Regions from separate parts of the Homo sapiens genome. Here region 1 is linked to region 2. A link means that fine-mapping ties the variant in region 2 to the expression of a gene that starts in the linked region. Tissue or cell type: atrial appendage. Region 2 holds a variant in brackets; the other region holds the start of a gene. All regions are shown on one strand. Distances are between the middles of the regions.

Evidence for each region. PIP is the estimated chance that this variant, and not a neighbour inherited with it, causes the effect.
Region 1: it holds the start of YBX3, and the variant in region 2 is the best candidate, but not a certain one, in a credible set for the expression of YBX3 in atrial appendage (GTEx, PIP 0.88).

Annotation. Positions count from the first base shown.
Region 1 is chr12:10,718,732-10,728,915 of GRCh38, forward strand. YBX3 (Y-box binding protein 3) reads right to left here and starts at 4,592. Exons shown (of 10, transcript NM_003651.5): 1 at 4,119-4,592; 2 at 349-412. The coding sequence starts at 4,380. It overlaps LOC124902876, which reads left to right and starts at 4,321. Exons shown (of 2, transcript XM_047429946.1): 1 at 4,321-4,929; 2 at 6,306-6,587. The coding sequence starts at 4,379. The coding sequence ends at 6,375. LOC112268104 (a long non-coding RNA gene) reads right to left here. Exons shown (of 4, transcript XR_002957443.2): 4 at 7,461-7,548. RefSeq lists silencers at 3,838-4,237, 4,368-4,467, 4,488-4,707.
Region 2 is chr12:10,689,454-10,700,464 of GRCh38, forward strand. YBX3 (Y-box binding protein 3) reads right to left here. Exons shown (of 10, transcript NM_003651.5): 10 at 9,636-10,201. Among named protein-coding and RNA genes, the nearest start is that of STYK1, 21 kb to the left of the region's middle. The variant C/T (reference allele first, on the strand shown) is at 5,668.

The DNA of each region.
Region 1 (10,184 bases), 29 kb after region 2:
TTGGGTGACCTTAGGAAAGCTGCTTAACCAGTGTAAGACTCCGTTTCTCCATCTGTGAAATTATGGATATGGTCTCATTTATCCTAAGGCCCTTCCCATTTCTGATTTTATCTCCCCCTCCTTTTCTTCCTTAATGACTAGATTTTATGAAATAAGTTATTTATTAGTGTCCTGGAAATGTATTTTAAGTAATATTTAACAACCAGTAGCTTAGAAATGAGAATATTTACAGTGCTTAGAAACCTAAAAAATTTATATAAGCCATTAATGAAGGCTAAGGGATTTATAACTCCTGGTGCCACAATGTAAGTATAAACTTAAAACATGCAAATATACACACACACATACCGATTTATAAATCCATATCCATTTCTGACGTTGAACCATTTGACAGTGCCAAGGACTTTGGTGGCTAAAATAGGATTAAGCAGATAAATTAGTATCTGACCTACAGAGAGATATAGCTCATATCACTAAGATCTTGATAACATTAGACAAAGCCTAAACATACCTAAAGAAACCATTAAAAGCTTAATTCCAAAATACTTTAGAAAAAGAAAATGGAGCAAGCCAAGATCTCATAAGGAAATACTTTTCAGAAGACTAAACCTTTCTTCCTTATTCAACTTTTCAGGAAACTCGCAAGATAAGGAGTGGTTATAAGTCTATACAATTCTGTAATCATTAAAATTGAGAAACACTGAAGGAAAAAAAGAATGTTCAAGATGAATGTTCCAAGTTTTAACCTAGACAAATTTTATAAGTTCAAAATAGGAGCTACAATAAAAGAGTGAAAGACCTTAACACATCACTTTCATACTTGGAAATATTAGGCAAACTTTAATGAGAAACAAGGTGGCTCCTTGTTAACAGGCAATCTACAAAGACGTAAAGCAACTTGTCCAGTCGCCAAGTGGGAGCTCATCAGAGGAGTCAAGAATAATTATAGAACTGCTGCTGTCTCAATCCAGTTCTGTACTTACCACTCTGAGACGTGATATAACAGGTCTTTTCAAATCACATGATGAATTTGGGCTTGTTTCTTTGTTTACCTTGCTCTCTACAGTTTTGCGAATCAAACTTAAGCATTTTTCCATAAAATCCCCCTCTTTACCATAATGGTTGTCTCTACCTCATGAGCAGGACCACTTCTCTACAATGCCTGATTTTAGCAGAATTGAGAGAAGGAATCTAAACAAAATAAAACTTCATGTAACTTGTATTTTGTAGGTTTATATTTATCTCAACTATTTCAAATATGATCTTTGGAATCAATTATGAATGACAAATTCAGTACTTCTAGGAAATGCCCCTGTCTCAATTCAGGAAGTGCAAAAAGCAATTATAAAGACTCAATGAAACAGGAAACCTGATAATAGATTACCTTAAAGAAAAAATAAAGAAAAAAGCCTCAGTAGAGAATGAAAGTAATTATTAACATCAATCCATACTGTCTTTTCATAAGATACAAAGTTTATAATTTCCAAGGATAAACAATAAGGCTTCACTTTTAAATTCAAAACTAAAATAGTAATTAAGACTTGCTCTGTTGTAGGCAGGGGTAGTTCTGAAGTTTGCTAGACTGATACACTTGGGAAAATACTTTAGCTCTCTTTGTTGGGGGAAAGAAAATCCAAAACAAAAAAAACATGTCTTTATATCTCCAAAGTTATGCAGTCTACACTGATGAGGCATTCTCCAGCTTTAATTCCAAAGATCTCTCATCTCTCCAAAGGAGAGATCAAACCCAGGCCATCTTACGTTTGAGGCCACTCTGATTGGAGCAGCAAGGCAAAGGAGAAAAAAACAGTTGATGTTTTCGATGCAAATGTACACAGTAGAGGCCTGTTTTTGATACATTATATGCATTTAAGTCAGGCAATATTCCAAATAATATGCGTTTAGTGCCTCTTTTCATTTGCCCAAAAAATTAATTACCTGGGAAAATATAAAGACTGGAACTGTTTTTAATATCTAGCATTGTTGAAGGAATAATCTTGATTAAAATGACAATACTAATAATAAAGGAAAAAGATGATAAATAATTCTCAGGTCTAACCTCAATCCAAGCTGAAGGTTATTTTTACTCTCCAATGTAGTTTAAAAAAGTTTCGTAATTCCGCAAATACTTCTCCAAGGACTTCTTATGATCAAATTCATTCCCACGTCTTGCTTTAAACCATAAACCCACTTCATATACACTAAGGGGAAGGGTTGGGGAGGAAGACCATAGATTTCCATAACATTTATCAGAAGGAAAATTTTTTTGCACTCATGAAAACTATTTTTCCTGGCCTATGTGCTTATAAACTCAAGTGAAGGCCCATTTGCAAATACTAGAACATATCCATTTTAGTCAGCATTGTGCCTAGTACATCTTAGGCATCTATGTGTTTGCTTGGCAAAGGAAAGGGGATGGCAGGACACACTAGACAGAGACAAACAGTGTTGAGGTGTCACGTAGAAAGGGCTGTCCTTCATTTTTAGAGAGACGCAGTAAGAGTGGAAAGATAAAAGGCATCAGACTCATCACCAGGGATCTGCAGAGGCAGTTGCTTGAGGAAATTAACCTTCATTTATCTGTTTCCTTCATCTTTAAAGATAGTATCTGCTTTCCCAATCTCAGAACAGTACAGGATTAAGTGAAAAACCGCAAAAGCTTTCTACAAAATAAGGTATCATTAACAATGTTATCCTAACACTGCTTTGGAGAACACAAGGTTTTCTCTCTCAGACATCTGGCAGAAAGTGTTCCAAGAAATATTTGCTAGAAACAACATCACAATGTACTACTGACTAGATTTAAGCAACTTTTAGTCCAGCAAAATCAGGCCTATTTTGTTTCTTAACCTACACAGGTTACAATTAGCATGTTGTTTGGTAGGGACTTAGTAAAAGCCCTAGAAAAAAAAAACAAGAAAATAGTCCTCTCAAGGTGGGGAATATTGAATACACTTCTCTCACATTGCTCCCTCAACTTTCTTCCCAAAGGGGAAGTAGGGCTCAGAGAGATGAGACAAACATGCCCCACCCCAAATAGTGAAGAGGTCTCCGAAGCATCCTACACCATCTGTTAACGTTCCTGTTTATAAGAGCGAACGATATGGACACACACCCTTTAGGGAGGTTATTCACCACCCACCTGCTTTGCAAGCGTTTAAGAACTCACACAGGGGCGTTACTTACGAAAAGAACGCTTGTTATGTGACTAAACCAACAACCATCACAGAAACCCTTTCCATCCACTGCCCCCCCAAATCTCAACATTTCATCTTCCTGTTTCCCTTCCTACGTTACAAGTGCCAAGGTAACAATGTTTTGAACTAACGTCATACCCCCACTTCCGACAAAGTTTTTTCAGCTGCTACACCACGTGCGTTCCCACAGTCCGGGAAGAGGGAAGCGTGTAGCCATTGGTGGACACTGAATGGCTGTTTGCAGCCGTGGGCACAGAGAGGGGGAGGAAGACGTGGGACTAAGACCCAAGTTTCCCGGAGACGATTGCAACATCTCTTTGCTGGCATGTGGCCAACAGGAGCATGGCGTCTTTCCCATGCCCATGTGGGAAGGGCGTCAGGGACAGACACCTGACCCTTCCTGGCAAGAAGCTTTTCTATCTTTCCCTCCCCGTCTCCTTCTAGCGCCCTCCTCTTCCCCAAAGGAAATGCTCTCCTTTCCCAGATCCCAAGCAAGGACCCCAAAGCGCCAGGCCCACGTGTCGGTCCTTCCCCTACATCCATCCCTACCCAAGGTCCCCTCTCCCAGACTGCCTCTCCTTTCTTCTCCAAACGCAGGCATTTTCCACCACGCGAATCCGCAACAGTGCCCGTCTGGGAGACAGAAGTTAAGACCTAAACTTTCTGGCCCGGAACCAGAAGGGAGATGCACACGGCCGCCAGGAGCGCAGGGCGCAGCGCGCTCACCTGGGAGCGCCGGCAAGGGAGGCGGCCAGCGCTGGGGACCCGGAGACCCCTGGGGACCCGGAGATCCCTGGGGACCCTGTGCTGTCAGCGTCTCCAGCCCGGGTGGGAGATGTAGCGCGAGCTGCCCACACGTGCTCCGCGGCCGGCTGGGCCCGCCCCACTACGGCAGCCCCTGCCCTCCCTGGCCTGACTCACCGAGAACTTTTTTCTCCGCGTCTTCGCTGCCGGCGGCGGTGGCTAAAGAGGCGGCGGCCGCGGTGCCCGTGGCTGCGGGGGCCGCGTCCCCACCGGGGTTTCCTGCGACGTGGGCGGCGGGCGCCGGGGCCGCGGCCTGGGGCGCACCGCTGCCCACCGGGCTCTTGGGCGCGGGGTCCTGGGGAGCCGCGGCGGCCGCCTCCGTCGGAGCCTGCGGGAGGGTGGTGGTGGTGGTGGTGGTGGCCTCGCCCGCCTCACTCATGCCTCCTCCTCCTCTGCTCTCGCTCAGGCGCCTCGGTGGCGGTTGGTCGGCGGTTAGCGCGGCTGGTGGTCGCGGCGGCCGGGGCTCGCTCTCGGGGAGGCCGGGGCGGATCTCGCGGCGCAGGCGGCGGCGGCCGAGGTGGGGTCGCGCGGCGGAGGCGGCTCGAGCTTCGTGCTGCGCGCTCTCTCTTGGGCTCCTCGCTCGATCTTACTGCCCCAAAAATGGCCCCGCACAAGTTTTTCTAGGCGGCGCACCGGCCCGGGAGGGAAGGGCGGGCGAGGGGAGAGGGTGGGGAAACTTGGCTCGGGAGTCGGGCCCTGGACTCTCATTAGCATTTAAAGGCGCCCGGTGCGCTTTCTATGGCTCCAATCCGCCGGGACGCGAGCGCGCGGGTCGCGTTGCAGAACCAAGGAAAGCCAGGGTGAACGGGGCGCCCGGGTTGTCTTCTGGAGCGTTCCGAGGAGCCCGCGCTGCTGACCCTTTGTTGGAGCGGGGTGCATTGGCTCTCCTCCCTCAACCCGTCTTGACACCCGCAGCTGACAAGGAGAGGTAAAATAGGGCACCCAAACTACTCTGCGCTTTACCCTCTCAAACACTTGTTTTTAAATCCTTTGCATCTAGTCAGTCATTCAACATGTATCAAGCACCAGCAGCTATTCGTAGCACAGCTGTTAAGACCTGGAATAATAAAACCTTAAGACTATTTGGCAACTTACTCCTGAAAGGTAATATACGGATAATTTCATCTGTAACACGCAGATGAGGAAATTGACCTCACAGATTTAATGTAAATTCAGAGTTTACACCAATTTAACCGCAACAAATAAGGAGCTGTCAATATATATTTAATAAGGAACACACACAAAAAAAGCTGAATAAATCCACTTCCTACCTTCTGCTCCAGTTGCCTCTGCCAGCTGGTGAAAGCTTAAGGAACTGAGCCCTCTTAGCCTCGAGGATGAGAGGTATAGAGAAACAGATCACCCAATAAACATTATTCCCAAGTTGAAGAGCCCACATGCCCTTTGAGAATGGGCTGGATGGTAGTAAACACAGGGCCAGAGGGTCTGGGATCTGTACCCAAAGACTGTCTGGAATACAGGACTATTTGGCCCCTAGGGTTCAGACAGACTAGGTATAAATTCTGGCTTTGTTTTTTATTAACCAGGTTAACTTGGGACAGAGATTCAATGTCCCAGAGTCGGTTTCCTGCTTTATGAGAGGTTCTCAAAGGTGACATGAAAAGTAGATGAGATTATCATGTGTCACTCCAGTGTCCGGTCCACCTAAAGCTCCTTTGTTTTGTTTGTTTTTTAAGTTATTGCCTGTTCCCTCAAACAATTTACCAAATTTTTTTCCAGGAATATGTCTGTAATGTCGATGTCTACCTTAACATCAGTAGGGTAACTATCAAGTGTAATTCATCTTTGTATCTCCACTGGTTAGTACAGTACGTAGCACAGAGTTTGGACATAGTGAATGTTTACAAAATGAAAACAGACCAAATTCTTCCAAACTCAATTACTTATCTGCACATTTGCTATCAATTATTATGAAACTTTCCTGAATTCTTACTTTCTTATTTCATCCACAAAAAACACAAAGAAAATAAGTTATTTGAAAAAATAGCAAATTATGTAATTTTGAGCTTTTCTATGTAATTCATCAATATTTAAAAAATTACAAACTCTTAAATGTTAGATTCATATTTTAGTTTGACTTCAGTATGGAGCATACAGTGATGTTATATAAATGTAGATGCTTTTAAAATGCTGGTCTAATTCTAAGAATGATTAAATTATTTCTTCATGTGAAAGATTATGGTCTTAATTACAATTAAATTATAAACATGATTTATTCTGGTGAGGACTGACCATTGACTTTCTTATTCAGCAAAATGATTATCATTGCTATTTACCTTTCAGAATTACATTACAAGAAAAAAAAGTAAGGAGATTGAACTCTTCAAACCGATCCAACAGTAAAGCCTTTTAAAAAAATTCATCCTTGGAAGTAATTCATAACTAACAGGTGTGATCTCCAACCTCTGGAAGACCCTAAAATAATTACAGATGCACCCTGGGATTTCCTAGAATTTGTGCTGGACTGGCTTCCAAAACTACTCATCATTGTCATCCAAACAAAGCAGTGAGCAGCTGGAAGTTGTTGGTATTGTACTAAATAAATCTAAAGAAAATTAGAACAAATATGATCTATGTTTTAATAATCATAAGTAGGAAGCAACTTGGATACAGATACACATAAATTTATCCATTCCTTCATTCACTAATTCATACACTCATATTTGCTAAGCAAATGCTATGTCCCGGACAAAGTACACCATTGTGAGTATCCAATGTTGACCAAAATGGAGCCGGTTGTAAGGTCTTTTGATATGATGTTAAAATTATTTTTCACTATCAACATTTCTATTGTAAGACAATATCATCATTTACTAAGTTTAAGAGTAAGTCAACAAAGAATTATAATCTAATTGCTGACAGCAGTCATTTTTAAGCAATTATTGGTTTGATCATAAAAACAAATGCCACTCTGTTCCTAGTATGGAGGAAGTTAAAGCTCTCACAACTGTTGGAAGGGCTGAAGGAGGGAAACTCAGAGAAGCTCCACTGAAGATCTCAGCCTCCAGTCCCCAAGACAGTGGTTCTCAGGAGTTCTCCTGAAGCCACTGGAGCCACAAGATCTTTCGGAAGTTCTCAGCAATTCAGGGCTGGATTCAGGTTTTGTGATGCTTAAAACTAATACAATTTAGAGAGCCCTTTTTGAGATAAAATAAAGTTATGAATACTAAAATGCTAGGACTGCTCCCAGAGTCTTCGAAAGGGTCCGTGCAAGACAGGAGCCCTGAAATTTAAACTTCATTAGCTTTACTCCTGCACCTGCTATCTCAGTCAGCAACACCGATGCAGTAAGTCCTCAAGAAGTTCATCTGGAAGCAGCTTTGATGCCGATGCATCTTTCTATAACTGACTCTGGTATATAATGGTCTTCTCTTCTTCCTTCTAAACTTTGAGCGAAAGGCTCTCATTGTTAGATTCCAACTTGGAAATATACAGGCCGGGAGGGAGATTCTGGGAAATGTAGTCTCTGCATTTGAAGAAGCTAAAGTTGATGCTAAATTGACAGGAGGCTATCCAGCATATCACCCTAAGGAAGAAAATGCAATTAATTGACTAAGGAGATTGAGGAGAATTCAAGTTATTCAAGGGACTGGAGCTTAAAATAAGGAAGCTTTGTGTATTAGCATATTTGAAACTGGAAAACAGTGAAGTATTAATCTCAACTTAATTGATACAAAAAAGAACATGAGGGAAATGGTCAGTTTGGAACAAAAAAGTGCAAGAATAAGAGAGTAAAGGTATTTCAGGATGTCTCCAGCAATGTTCAGGGGGAGAGTGGACCTTGGTTATCACGCTCTGTTTGGCACTCAGTAGTAATGCATTCAGCACATTTATTAATCATTGCAATTTGGTGCTAAGAACATCATGCAAAACAGGCAGGAATGCCCCTGTATTGAATGAATTAATGGTATAGACCCATACTGTCCCATTGGAAATATAATTTGAGCCCCAAATGTGAACCAAATATTTAATTTTAAATTTTCAAGCAGCCACAATAAAACAGTAAAAAACAGATGAAATTAATTTTAATAGATTTTACCTAACTTAATCAATATAAAATATATATTATTTCCACATTTAATCAAGGGTAAAACCATGAATGATGTATTCTACATTCCTCTTTTTTTTTTTTTTTGGTACTATCTTCAAAGTGTGTATCTTACACTTCTAAGACATCTCAATTTGAACTCACATTTAAAGAGTTCGGTGTGGCTGATGACTACCATATTGAGTAGCACAAGCCTTCTAGACAATTAGAAGTTTAACCTGAATAATTCTTCAGGATTCCATTGGGAAAAAGTCCTGGGCCTGAAAGCTGGACCATACATCAGTCTGTGGCTACCCAGCAAGATAATGCTACCTGTTGGGCTGGTTTGAGCTTCCTTTGTGACATATAATATCCAAAGAATTTACATGAACCATAATGCCATAATTCTGAATAACTCTATAATGATGTCACTGATGATCTCTAGGGCATGTAAACAAAGTGAATTTACAATATCCATTCCCTGTCACCACTGCCTTTATGGACTATGCTTCTTCTTTAACTTTCACATATATTGGCCTACCATAATGAAGATGTATTATAGGATTTCTTCCTTTTCATTAAGAGAACTGAGAATATGGTGGGGAATTGGCTGTGACTTTACTCTCCCCTATGGGAAGCTGGATTTAGAGTTCAGAAAATGTTGCACCTCTAGACCTGAAATTATTAAGCAGGAGGAAAAAAAAAAACAAGCGATTACTGAGAAGTTTTGAAAAACCTGATTATTTCAGCATATATTGATTTTATATAAAAGTTCCAGCTTCTAAGTGACTTTGTTGCATTTGTTTTGCTTCTACTTATTTTCTTAACTATTTAGATGTGTTCTTAGTGTTTAAAGACTAGGAGATTGGTACAGTTTTGGTGGAAGAACTTGACAAGATTATCTGATAAGTAAGAACTAGAAAGAAATGTATCCATCTCAACCCCACTCATTTTAAAAACAAGGAATTGCAGTTCAGAGATTAACTGACTTTCTCGAACTAATTTATGTATTTAGTGGCAAAGCTAGAACCAAAACCTGAGTCTCCTTATACCCAATTCAGCGCCCTTGCCACCATAAAATTCTGATTGACAAAATGTCAATGCTGTAGCATTGAGTCCCCTCAAAAATAAAGCAAGGCAGCACTTTGGGAGGCCGAGGCGGGTGGGTCACTTGAGCCCAGGAGTTCAGGACCAGCCTGGACAGCATAGCAAAACCCCGTCTCTACAACAAACAAACAAAACAAAAACCAGCAAAAATTAGCTGTGCTGGACATGGTGGTGCATGCCTGTAGTCCCAGCTACTCAGGGCTACTCAGGAGGCTGAGGTGGGAGGATCACTTGAGCCCGGGAGGTCGAGGCTGCAGTGAACCATGATCATGCCACTGTGCTCTAGCCTGGGTGACAGAGTGAGATCCTGTCTTAAGAAAAGAAATAAAGCAAGGCTCTCTGGCCACTGAAGGTAATGTTCAGATCTTTCCAATTAGGACCTCTGGAGAGGAAACCAAACAGCTGTGTGCAATTTTATTTTACAGCATTTTGGAACGTTCTGAAACAATGAATAAAATATATTCTCTTCTTCCTAAAAAAGCTTTATTCTGTCTCTTTTTGCACATACTATTTTTTCTCTTTTTTTCTGTTTTAATCTGCTTTCTTTATTCTTTTAACTTTCTTTGTCACCTCCCTTTATGTCCTCACTTGTTTAGGAATTAAATCTCAGAGAATGTCAAGTCTAGATTCTTGTCTAGAAGATATAGTGTCTTTTATTTCTTGGTAGATATCATAATTCTTAAAAATGCACTCTCAAACAGCAAACAAAGAGGAAAAGGGACTCTCAAACAGCAAACAGAGAGGAAAATCATCCAATGTGTCTCTTCTTCAGTTTTCAAAGAATTTTTCAAAATTCTTCCTTCTCTTCTCTTTGAATTGAACTCTTCCTTTTAGTCAGACTTTCATTTGATCTCTATTAGCATCCCTAGTGGCTCACCGTAATGATCTATTTAAATACTCATCTTTTGGAGACATCTGTTTAATTGGATTTTGATGTTCCTTTAACATGGGAACTTTGGAGTAGAAATTGAGAATGAGAAAATTTGGGAGAAAGAAAACTGGTTCCTAAGAAAATTCCAAGAGAGAAA
Region 2 (11,011 bases):
TCACAGATTTATTTCTTCCAGTATTGCTGAAAGATATGTCTTCTGGGCTTCTCAGTGTGAGAATGTCTTAAATGACTAATTCACTCTAACATTCTAATATCCCTATGCCTTTGGATCTCTTCCTCTACATTAAACCAAGGCATTTTTGGTATTTCCAATTCACTTATGGTGAACCACCTTTTGATTAATGTTTTAGTCAAACAATCAAATTAATTGTTAGAGCTCATTCTAACTCCTTGAGTTGAGCTGCAACATTAAATGCAGAAACTCTGCTTAGTGAGCCCATGTCAATAAATTCAGCTTGATCCAATTTTATGTTCCTTCCATTATCACCCTATACTCTTAGTATCCATTCCCACACATGTCCCCTGGATTTCTGTGTGTATGAATTAGAAAACTCAAGTAGCTCATTTGGAGTGTAGTGCACCTCCTCATGGGTCATACTTTCTACCTCACCCTTAGGGGCCTGCTGGGACTTGAGTCTAGTTGTAGGTCTAGAAGAAAATAAGGGTGTTGAGGGTGGGTCCTGAGAATCAGTATTGTTTCACTGGGCCACTGTCTCAGGGAAGGCAATTACTATTTTCTCAGGCAATTCAGGGTTAATACCACTGGGGGTGAGGATGCCACTGTATTGAGCATGGGGAGGCTGCTGCTTCTGGAGTTGAGGGGACCACTTCTGTGGGGGCTAGGAAGACCTCTTCTACTTGTAAAGAATGCTATAAGAATGAGGGACTCAATGTCCCCAGCTTCATCAGGGTCTTGCCACACAGCCACATCCCAATGTATAGGATCCCATGCTTTTTCATTTAATGCCCTCACTTCAATACAACATACCATGCAAAGCTGGGAATTCAACTTGCAGTGTACTCGGCCAGTCACAGGATGAGGTTCTGCCTTCGATTTTCAGCAATTTCAGCCGTACAGCTACAGGAGGTAAGAGTCTCCTTCAGGTCAAACATAGAAGCTCTTGAGACAGTTATGTAGTGCTTAAGCTGAGATTTCATATCCCTGAGCTCATCCTTTTCTTTCACTACTCTGTCTAGAAACATAGGAACAACCAACTAACATCATTATTTTCCTTAGTTTTCCAAAAATGATTGAAAGTATCATATACATAGTCACTTAGCTCCTTGCTTCCTTGTAAGTGGTGGACTAGGAGTACCCAGTGGAGAAATTTTGCATATCTCCATAAACAGTTCATGTCATACACTATCAATGCTTTATTTACTACTGGAAGTAGTCATTAGCATCTTTAAATCTAATCAGATTAGAGAGTCAATTCTGGGAACTCCAGAAGGAATTCTGAAAACTCATCCTTAAAATTCTATTCCTCTAGAAGCACTCTCACTACCAAAATCTCTATTAGTCGGGGTTCTCCAGAGAATCAGAACCAGTAGCATATATATATATATATATATATATATATATGAGATATATACACACATATATATATCTCACATATATGATATACGATGTATATATGTGTATATATATGATGTGTGTGTATATGATGTATATATATGATGTATGTAAAAGGTTTATTATAAGGAATTGGCTCATTATAGAGGCTGAGAACTGCTTGCTGTCTGTAAGCTGGAGTTCCAGAGATGCCAGTGGTTTAATTCAGTCTGAGTCCAAAGGCCTGAGAGTCAGAGGAGCCAATGGTGTAAATACCAGTCTCAGGCAAGAGAAGATGAGACGACATGTTCCAGTTCAAGTGGTGAGGCAGGGAAAAAGGGGCAAATTCCTCCTTCATCTGCCTTTTGCTCTATTCATGGCTTCAATGGATTAGGTGATGCCCACACACACTGTGAAGGACAATCAATTTACTGAATCTACAGGTTCAAATGCTAATCTCTTCTGGAAACACTCTCACAGGCACACCTCAAAATAGTGTTTAATCTGGGTACCCTGTGGCCAGTCAAGTTGACACACAAAATTAACCATCAAAACCTTCCCAACTACAACGAACTTCATAAAGGAAGGCCTCAATACCTACCAAATGCTGCTTGTTGGGGATGATGGAAATGATTAACAATTGCACATGCCATCAGCAGTCATTTAACCTTAAAATTTAACCTTAAAAAGAAAAAGGAGAAGCACTAAGCAGAAAAAGTAGGAGGAAAGGGTCTGAAAGTTCTGAGTCTGTCAAGAAAATGACTTCAGGAATAAGAATAATAAGGAAAGTCATTATCAGCACACTTTACTTTCACAACATCATCAGGGTTATCTCAAACTGTACTTGTCAAAAACGATCTAATACCACAGTTTAAATACACTTTTCTAAATAGAAACTAAATGACCAGAACGAGCAACGTATTTGATCTTTGTTTAGCTTCTCTCTTACCTATTCTGGTTGGCTATACTTATGATACAATGTCATTGGCACACACTTGGATTACTCTACATGGGCCGAGACCTCCACTATCCTTTGTCCTACAATTATGTAGAGGTATAGATTACATGTCTCAGGCAGTGAAACATAATCCCTAGATGAGACCAGGACAGAGCCATCCACAAAAAGACAATGGCATATTCTACTTGAGGGAGAGCTGGGATAATCTGAAATGTCTTCCCCTTTACCTTTAGTTGAAAACTACATTTTTCCTTTCAAATATGTTGAAACCACGTTCTGGAGTGAGCAGCCTGAGGTTATAGATGATGAGGGCTTTAGACCTGAACCTAGATATTATAACTCCCGAGCTTGTTCTCCATCCAGCCTACTTTCTGTGAATTTCAGTCTTATAATACATTTGTGTAACCAGCATCCACAATATTCACATTTCCTAAATGGCAACAAAAGTGACTAGCAAGGATTGTTGTGGAGGCCTAAAACAATGTTGAGAACATTGGTATTTAATGTGTTGTTCATTTATGCAAGAGACTTTAAAGGTAACTTCATACCATGCTTCTCAACATTTTTCACAAAATTTTTATAATCTTTCACTTTGCCCCACCCAATTTCTCTGACTTCTGGAGTAGTCAAGACAGGTTTTGGTTAGATCTACTTGAGTCCGCAAGGCAAGTTTCAAAATGGGGGAGGTGCTTTAATTGGCTGGTTCAAACCAGTTCTTTTGGCAACCTCAGTCAGCATATGGCCCCAGGTTCCCTTGTCTCTCCCAAAACTCAGCAGTTATCATGTTCACAGAGCAGAAATTACATGATTAGATGGTCTTTCTATTGGTGCAAGGATAAAGAATAATATCACCAAAACCACTAAACAATAGCAGAATTATTTTTTAGAGCCCATGGAACATTCACTAAGACAGACCATATCCTGGACCGTAAACCAAATAAAACTCAACAAATTAAAATAATCAAAATGATACAGTGTGTGTTCCCTGATTATGATGAAATAAAATTAGAAATTAATACCAGAATAACAGAAAAACCAACAAGCATTTGAAATTAAACACCGTACTTCTTAATGGGTCAATGAAGACGTTTCAAGATAAATTTTAAAATACATTAAACTGTATGAAAATATGAATACAACATTTGAAATCTGTGGGCACAATTAATGCCATGCTGAGAAGGAAATTTATAGCATAAGTGTTTATATTAGAATAGGAAAAAAGTCAAAAATAAATAATCTGAGCTCCAATCTTAAGAATCAGAAAAAGGACAAAATAAACCTAAAACAAGCAGGAAAAAAGAAATAATAAAGAGCAGATGTCAATAAAGTGCAAAACAGAAAACCAGAGAAAAATCAATAAAACAAAAAGCTGGTTCTTTGAAAATTTTGATGAAATTGAAAACCTCTTGTGAGACTGACAAAGAAAAAAATGATGCAAATTACAAATATCAGTAGTGAAACAGAGATTTTACTACCATCCCCAAAGACTTAAAAATAAAATCTAAAAAATCATTATAACTCTTCATACACAAATGTGGTAATAATTTAGAGACAATGAATTCCTTAAAAAGCATAAACTACCAAAACTCACCCAATATAAAATAGATAATTTGAATAGACCTATAATTGTTAAATTTGTAGTTTAAAAATTCTCAAAAAAAATACTCTATGCTCAGATGCTACCAAACATTTAAAGAAAATTTAACATCAATTATACATAATCTCTTCCAAAAAACAGAAGAGGAAGGAACACTTTCCATCTCATTTTATAAGGCTAATGCTAACTGTGATACCAAAACCAGACAAAGACAGTACAGAAAAAAGAAAAACTACACACCAATATCCCTCATGCACAGAGGAGTACAAAACTTCAATAAAATATTAGCAAGTTAAATCCAATAATATATTTAACATTATACAACATGACTAAGTGCATTTATTCAGGGAATGCTAGGCTGGTTCAATATTTAAAAATCAATATAACCCACCATATTAACAAGCTAAAGAGGAAAAATCATACGATCATATCAACTGAGGCAGGAAAAGCATTTGCCAAAATCCAATACTCATCCATGATAAAAACTCTCAGCAAACTAGAAAATAGAGAGGATCTTCCTGAACCTGATAAAGAAGATCTACAAAAATACCTACAGCTAACGTGATACTTAATGGTGAAAGGCTGAATGCTTTCTCCCTAATATTGGGAAAAAGGCAAGAATATCCACTCTACTATTCTCAGTTAATATAACACTGAATGTCCTCACCAGTCAGCACAGTAAGAACAGAAAATAGGCCCGGCGCGGTGGCTCACGCCTGTAATCCCAGCACTTTGGAAGGCCGAGGCGGGCGGATCACAAGGTCAGGAGATTGAGACCATCCTGGCTAACACGGTGAAACCCTGTCTCTACTAAAAATACAAAAAAATTAGCTGGGCGTGGTGGCGGGCGCCGGTAGTCCCAGCTATTCGGGAGGCTGAGGCAGGAGAATGGCGTGAATCCGTGAGGCGGTGCTTGCAGTGAGCCGAGATCGCGCCACTGCACCCCAGCCCGGGTGACAGAGCAAGACTCCGTCTCTAAATAAATAAATAAATAAATAATAAAAATAAAGAACAGAAAATAAATGAATAAATGGCATACAGATTAGAATGGAAAAAATAAAACTGTGCCTACTTGCAGATAACATAATCTACCAAAACATTTCCTAAAACTGTAAGTTCAGTGAATTTGTAGCATAAAAGGTCAACATATACAAATCCATTCTATTTCTATACACTAGTTATGAACAGTGAAAGCTTATAGTACCACTTGCAATCACTGAAAATGAAATACTTGGGTATAAGCCTAATTAAATATGTACAGAACTTATATGCTGAAAAGTAAAATGCAGATGAAAGAAATCAAAGATTTGAATAAATAGAGAGATGTACGTGTTCATGGATTGGAAGACTCAACATCAATTCTCTCCAGACTAATCAAGGGCTTAACACATTCTGTATCAAAATCCAAGCAAGGTTTTTTTTTTAGAAACAGATTAGCTTATTCTAGAATGTACACAGGAAGGCAAAAGAACTAGAATAGCTAAAACAATTGTGAAAAAGAATAAAGTGGGAAGAATCACTGTACCTGATACTAAGATTTATGTAATTATGGCAATGTGTTATTGGCAGAGAGATAACAAACAAGACCAGTGGAACAGATTAGAGACCCTAGAAAAAGACCCACACAAGCAGAGCCAAGTGGACTTTGGCAATGGTATAGAAAAGCTATTCAACTAAGACAGTCTTTTCAACAAATGGTGCTGGGACAACTAGA[C/T]AGACATAGGTGAAAACAACTTAAACTTCCTATCTTAGACACAAAGATGGAGAAAAACATGGAAGAATATCTTTAAGACCAAGGCTAGGTAAAGAGTTCTTAGACATAAATAACACCAAAAGCACAATCAATAAAGGAAAAAACAAAAACAAAAAACAAAAACAATAAACTGGAGTTCACCAAAATTAAAAAGTTTTGTTCTGCACAAGACACTGTTAAAAGGGTAAAGACGGCCAGGCATGGTTCTCACACCTGTAATCCCCAGCACTTTGGGTGGCCAAGGTGGGTGGATCACAAGTTCAAGAGAGAGAGACAATCCGGGCCAATATGGTGAAACCCAGGCTCTACTAAAAATACAAAAATTAGCCAGGTGTGGTGGCATGTGCCTGTAATCCCAGCTATGGGAGGCTGAGGCAGAAGAATCGCTTGAACCTGGGAGGCGGCAGCTGCAGTGAGCCAAGATTGCACCACTGTACTCCAGCCTGGCAACAAAGTGAGACTCTGTCTCAGAAAGAAAGAAAAAAAAAAAAAAAGTCAAGACAAGCTACAAACTGGGAGAAAAATGTTTACAAACCACATCCTTGACAAAGAACTCATATCTAGATTATACAAAGAACTCCCAAAATTCAAACAGTAACAAAAACCAAACAGCCCAATCAGAAAATTGATGAAAGACATGAAAAGACATTTCACCAATGATACAGAGATGGTAAATAAGCACATGAAAATATATAGCTATTAGGGAAATGCAAATTAAAGCCACAATAAATATCACCTCACCTATAAAAGTTAAACAAATAACGGTAATAATACCAAATGCTGATGAAGATGTTAAGAAATCAGGTCTTATACGCTGCTGCCATGAACGTAAAGTGACATAGCCTCTGTAGTAGTTTGCTAGGGCTGCCGTAAGAAAATACCACAGATTAGTGGCTTACACGACAGAAATTCCTTTTCTCAGGTCTGGAGGTTGGAAGTCCAAGATCAAGGTGCTGGCAGGTTTGGTTCACTGAGGCCTCTCCGTGGCTTGCAGATGGCCTTCCTTCCTCTTGCAACTTCTTCAAATGGCCACCCCCCTGTGCACGCATGTCTCTGGTGTTGCTCCTCACAAGAACACCAGTCATATTGGATTAGACCTCACCCTAAAATGGACTTATTTTAAACTCATCTATCACCCCTTAAAACAACTTATCTCCCAATATGGTTACATTCTGAGGTACTGGAGGTTAGGACTTCAACATTTGAGTTTTAGGGGGACACAATTTGGCCCTTAACAGCCATTCTGGAAAACATCTTAGGAACTTTTTAAAATAACAACACACACACACACACACACACACACACACACACACACACTTCTTCCCACAATTTTTATTACTCGGGAAATTCTGTTCTCAACTGATAAGAGGGAGTTTTCACCAGTGGTGCCAAGTCCATGTGACAGGCACAGGCGTTGCCTGGAACCCCTTATGTGCAAGCCTTCATGAATTTGACAATGAGATCAATGCATAAAAGAACAATACTATGGCAATAACAAAGTGGTGATTTCTAGTCTCTTTTATCAGATGCCTCTATTCTATACCCCTTTTACTAGAATACTGTCCAAACTAGAGGCATAGGGAGGGATCTGCAAACTAAGCTCCCCGTGTTATTTGACCAGTGTGGATCATTCATTAGAGCTTACCATCCCCATTCTGAAAGCCTGGGTGATTCTGGAGCTAGCTCATCAGTTAAAATGAAATGCTTTCACAAAGCATTTTGGGAAAATCACAAAGCTGATGAATTCTTATTTCTGCTACTGCACAAGATCACATTTCCAGAGATTTATATCAGCACCTGTATCCTTTCTAGACTTTTTCTTATTAAACAAAATGCTTATGCCATAATATACAAAATCAATCTTGAGATTCTTTTCCATTTTTTAACTGAAACTAGCTTCAATCTAATTTAGCTCTAAATTTTTTCTTTAAAATCTCAAAACATGTCTTTATAAACACATTTATCCACTCCACTAAGAGCAAAAAGCTTTCAAAACTTGCATCTTTGCAATAAACACAAGAGCCCTTATAACAGTTACAGCTGACTTACTTGTGATCTGAAAGCACCCATCACTCTTGACACATAGTAGGAGGCAAATACTGATTTGCATAGTGCTATTTTCTGATAGGTGCAGTGCCATCAAATATGAACAACCACAGAGTTAAGTTGTGATTGCCGTATGACAGATAGCCTTCTAGTTAATTTCTGGCTGTGGTCTCACCCCGGTAGCCTGTATTTCTTGATAAAGCAATCCAAGGTCCCTCACCAGTAAAATAACATACTTTTGGCCCATCCTCACATCACATCCAATTTGTGTTATTTCTGTACCTACAACCAGTGTGTTTTCCCCAACTCTGCATTCATCATTCCATTTTATTTTATTTTTTCCCAGAAATAGAATAGCTACCATCCTGAAACAGATGACAGTATTTAGAAGTAAGGATGTTGGGATTATATCAAGCAAAATGTTTGCAATGGCAATTAAGATACCCTCAATATCCCATGATAGAAGGCTAGTACAATTATGGATAGCTATGTAATGGAATGTTATATAGTCAGTACAAATGATGAGAGGACTCTATAGGAAAAATATTAGGTGAAAAAGAAAATCAGTGCCAAAAAGTATACGTACATTTTAAAAACATTTTAAAAAGTATGTTTGAAATATTCTATACTAGAATAGCTTTAAAGTGAGCAGGAAGAGAGAAGGGGAAGTTAGGAAAAAGAAGACTGGCTAAATAGTATAGTTGAACTATCCATAGAATTTTAAACATGGATATGTCTAATGATTGTTTTTAAGTTGTTAACATAAGCACAATTTAAGCTCATTTCCTCTTCTCAAATTTGCATTAGTCGGCCAATCACACACACACATACACACACACACACACACACACACAGAGACTCACACACATGAAATATGTGAAATGGGTCTATTTTTAAGATATGCTAACTGGTTGCCTGGAGGAAACTGGAACCAAGATGGGAGCCTTTTTTAATAGAATAAAATAGTTGATTTTTTTTTTGCCTTGGCCTATTACCAATTTTTACCAACCCTTTTAACTTGCAAGATAATACAAGGTTCTTGAACAGTTCACATTCACCTGCTTGCCATTTATTAGGCCAAGAATGCTCCCTCCACCTGCAATGCTCTTCCCTGCAGATACTCAAATGTTTAATGCCCCTTCACCTTAGGACTCCATTTAAATAGGAGACCCTCCCCACTATTTAAAATCAACATATCCCCTATGATTATGCCAGTCCCTGTCCTCCTACCATGTTTTATGTTTCTTAACAGCACTTATTGCCATCTAAATTAAATTCCATACTTGTTTATTTTCTGTATGTACCTGGTCATTGAAACAATGGTATTTTGTTGGTTTGTTCCATCCTAGCCACTAGAATAATGTTTAGCACAAACCTACACTGGATATGTACTGCTGCAGCAGTTCTGAAAAGTAACTATACGGCACTGACAGCTGCGATAGTTTTTCTCAACTTAGGGGCACCATGGCTGGGAGGGGGAGAAATGTAGTTGTAAAGAGCTCCCTTGTATACCTACAACACAGCAGTTACTGGTAAAAACCTCAGGCTGGAAGTTGAAGGATGTTAGAACTATTAACTCCTTCGTTAATCTAAAGGTCATCACGTCACCTCACTGAATGAAGATTACTCAAAAAGAGACAGTACCAAATAATTCATGCCTACTACTGAACTCAGACATGAACTTGTCAATTTCCAGCTGTACATTTCAACAGGAATCCAATTTTTTATCATCTCAAGCTTATATGCCTAAATTTGTGAAACAGCATTAACTTAACTTTACATTTGGCTTTGAATTTACTATTAATCAAGTCAAGTAAATCAAGTGGTGGAGAAGACAAACACACGCTAAGGTCGGCAAAAATACACTCCCATTAAACATTCTGTCCTCTGAAGGGTAAAAATTTTATTTTTGAGGAATTTCTTACTGCACATTTTCAAAGAGAGTCACATAAGAAAGCAAAAATGTTATCCTCCCCTCATCCTAGAAATAAATAAGAAGGACATAAATTTTTTTTTTTTTTAAATCATGACACTTGGAGGTTTAGCACCAGCATCCAAAATGAACAAAAACGGAAAAAAAAGCATTTACTATATATTTCAGATTTCTTTGGTTGGGGTTCTCCCCATGTGGTATTAATATTTCTTGTTTCAATATATATATTACCAAAACAGTAAAAACCAGGAAAAAAAATAGAAACCTAGCGGTTGCTGAAACTGGAGAGGCTACTCTCTTGTCTTCCGTGCAGGAATTCCCAGGTTCTCAGCTTGCTGGAAAAATTTGTTGACATTTTCTTTTTGTAGTTGTTTCTTAAAGAATAACAGTAAACATTCCAATGTCCAAATCTTGGTTAGTCTTCCACTTTATTGCTTGGATGTTTCTTTGGTGTTGGTTAAGGTTGTGGCCTGCTTTTTGCTTTATTTCTGAATGGTCATTAATTCTTTAGGTCACCTGGGAAAAATTAAAATCAAACTTATAAAGAGTGACAAAGTAACCATGAGTTAAAGAATAAAAAGGCAGAAATTATATGCTTTTCATATAATTAGAAAAAGAGTACTTCAAATGCTCTAAATACAATCACATCTTGTATAGATCTGTAAGCTATATGTTAATTAAATGGAAACTCTCACTTTTTAATAAAGTATTTTTATAAACCAGAAAAGTCAGTACATAAGAGCAAAAATTTTATAAAATTGTATAAAAGAAAATTACCATTACTAATGAACAATACTCAAAATCATTTTAGTGGCTGCACCCTATCTCCTAATATGAATATATCACAATTAGCTATTTACCAAATGTCAGACAGACTGTAAATTGTAAAAATATTTTTTCCCAATATTTAAAATTATTTCCTTAGAAACAATACCTAGAAATAATGTTACGCCATAAAAGGGTATGGCCATTTTTATATTATTAATATGTTACTCTGAATCAGCTAATTCCAAGTTTGAATAGGGAACTTATTTCTGTGACAAACTGTCCATGCTACCCAAGATAAAACAGAATATTGTCCTCAAAGTGAATGCTTACCTAATTAATGGCTGATTAAAATCCCACATCACTGGATATAAAAGCAGATGGCCTTAAGACACAAGAACTTATAATAATCCCAAAACTTCATTGATGAAATTTTAACAATTTTTGAAAAATAGCATTGACACTGAGTTTACAACCTCTCTCTTAACTAAAAGCTAATGGAAAGGGTGATAACCAAGAAGTATAAGAACTAAAGTCTCAGTTAAAAGGGTTATAGGTTAA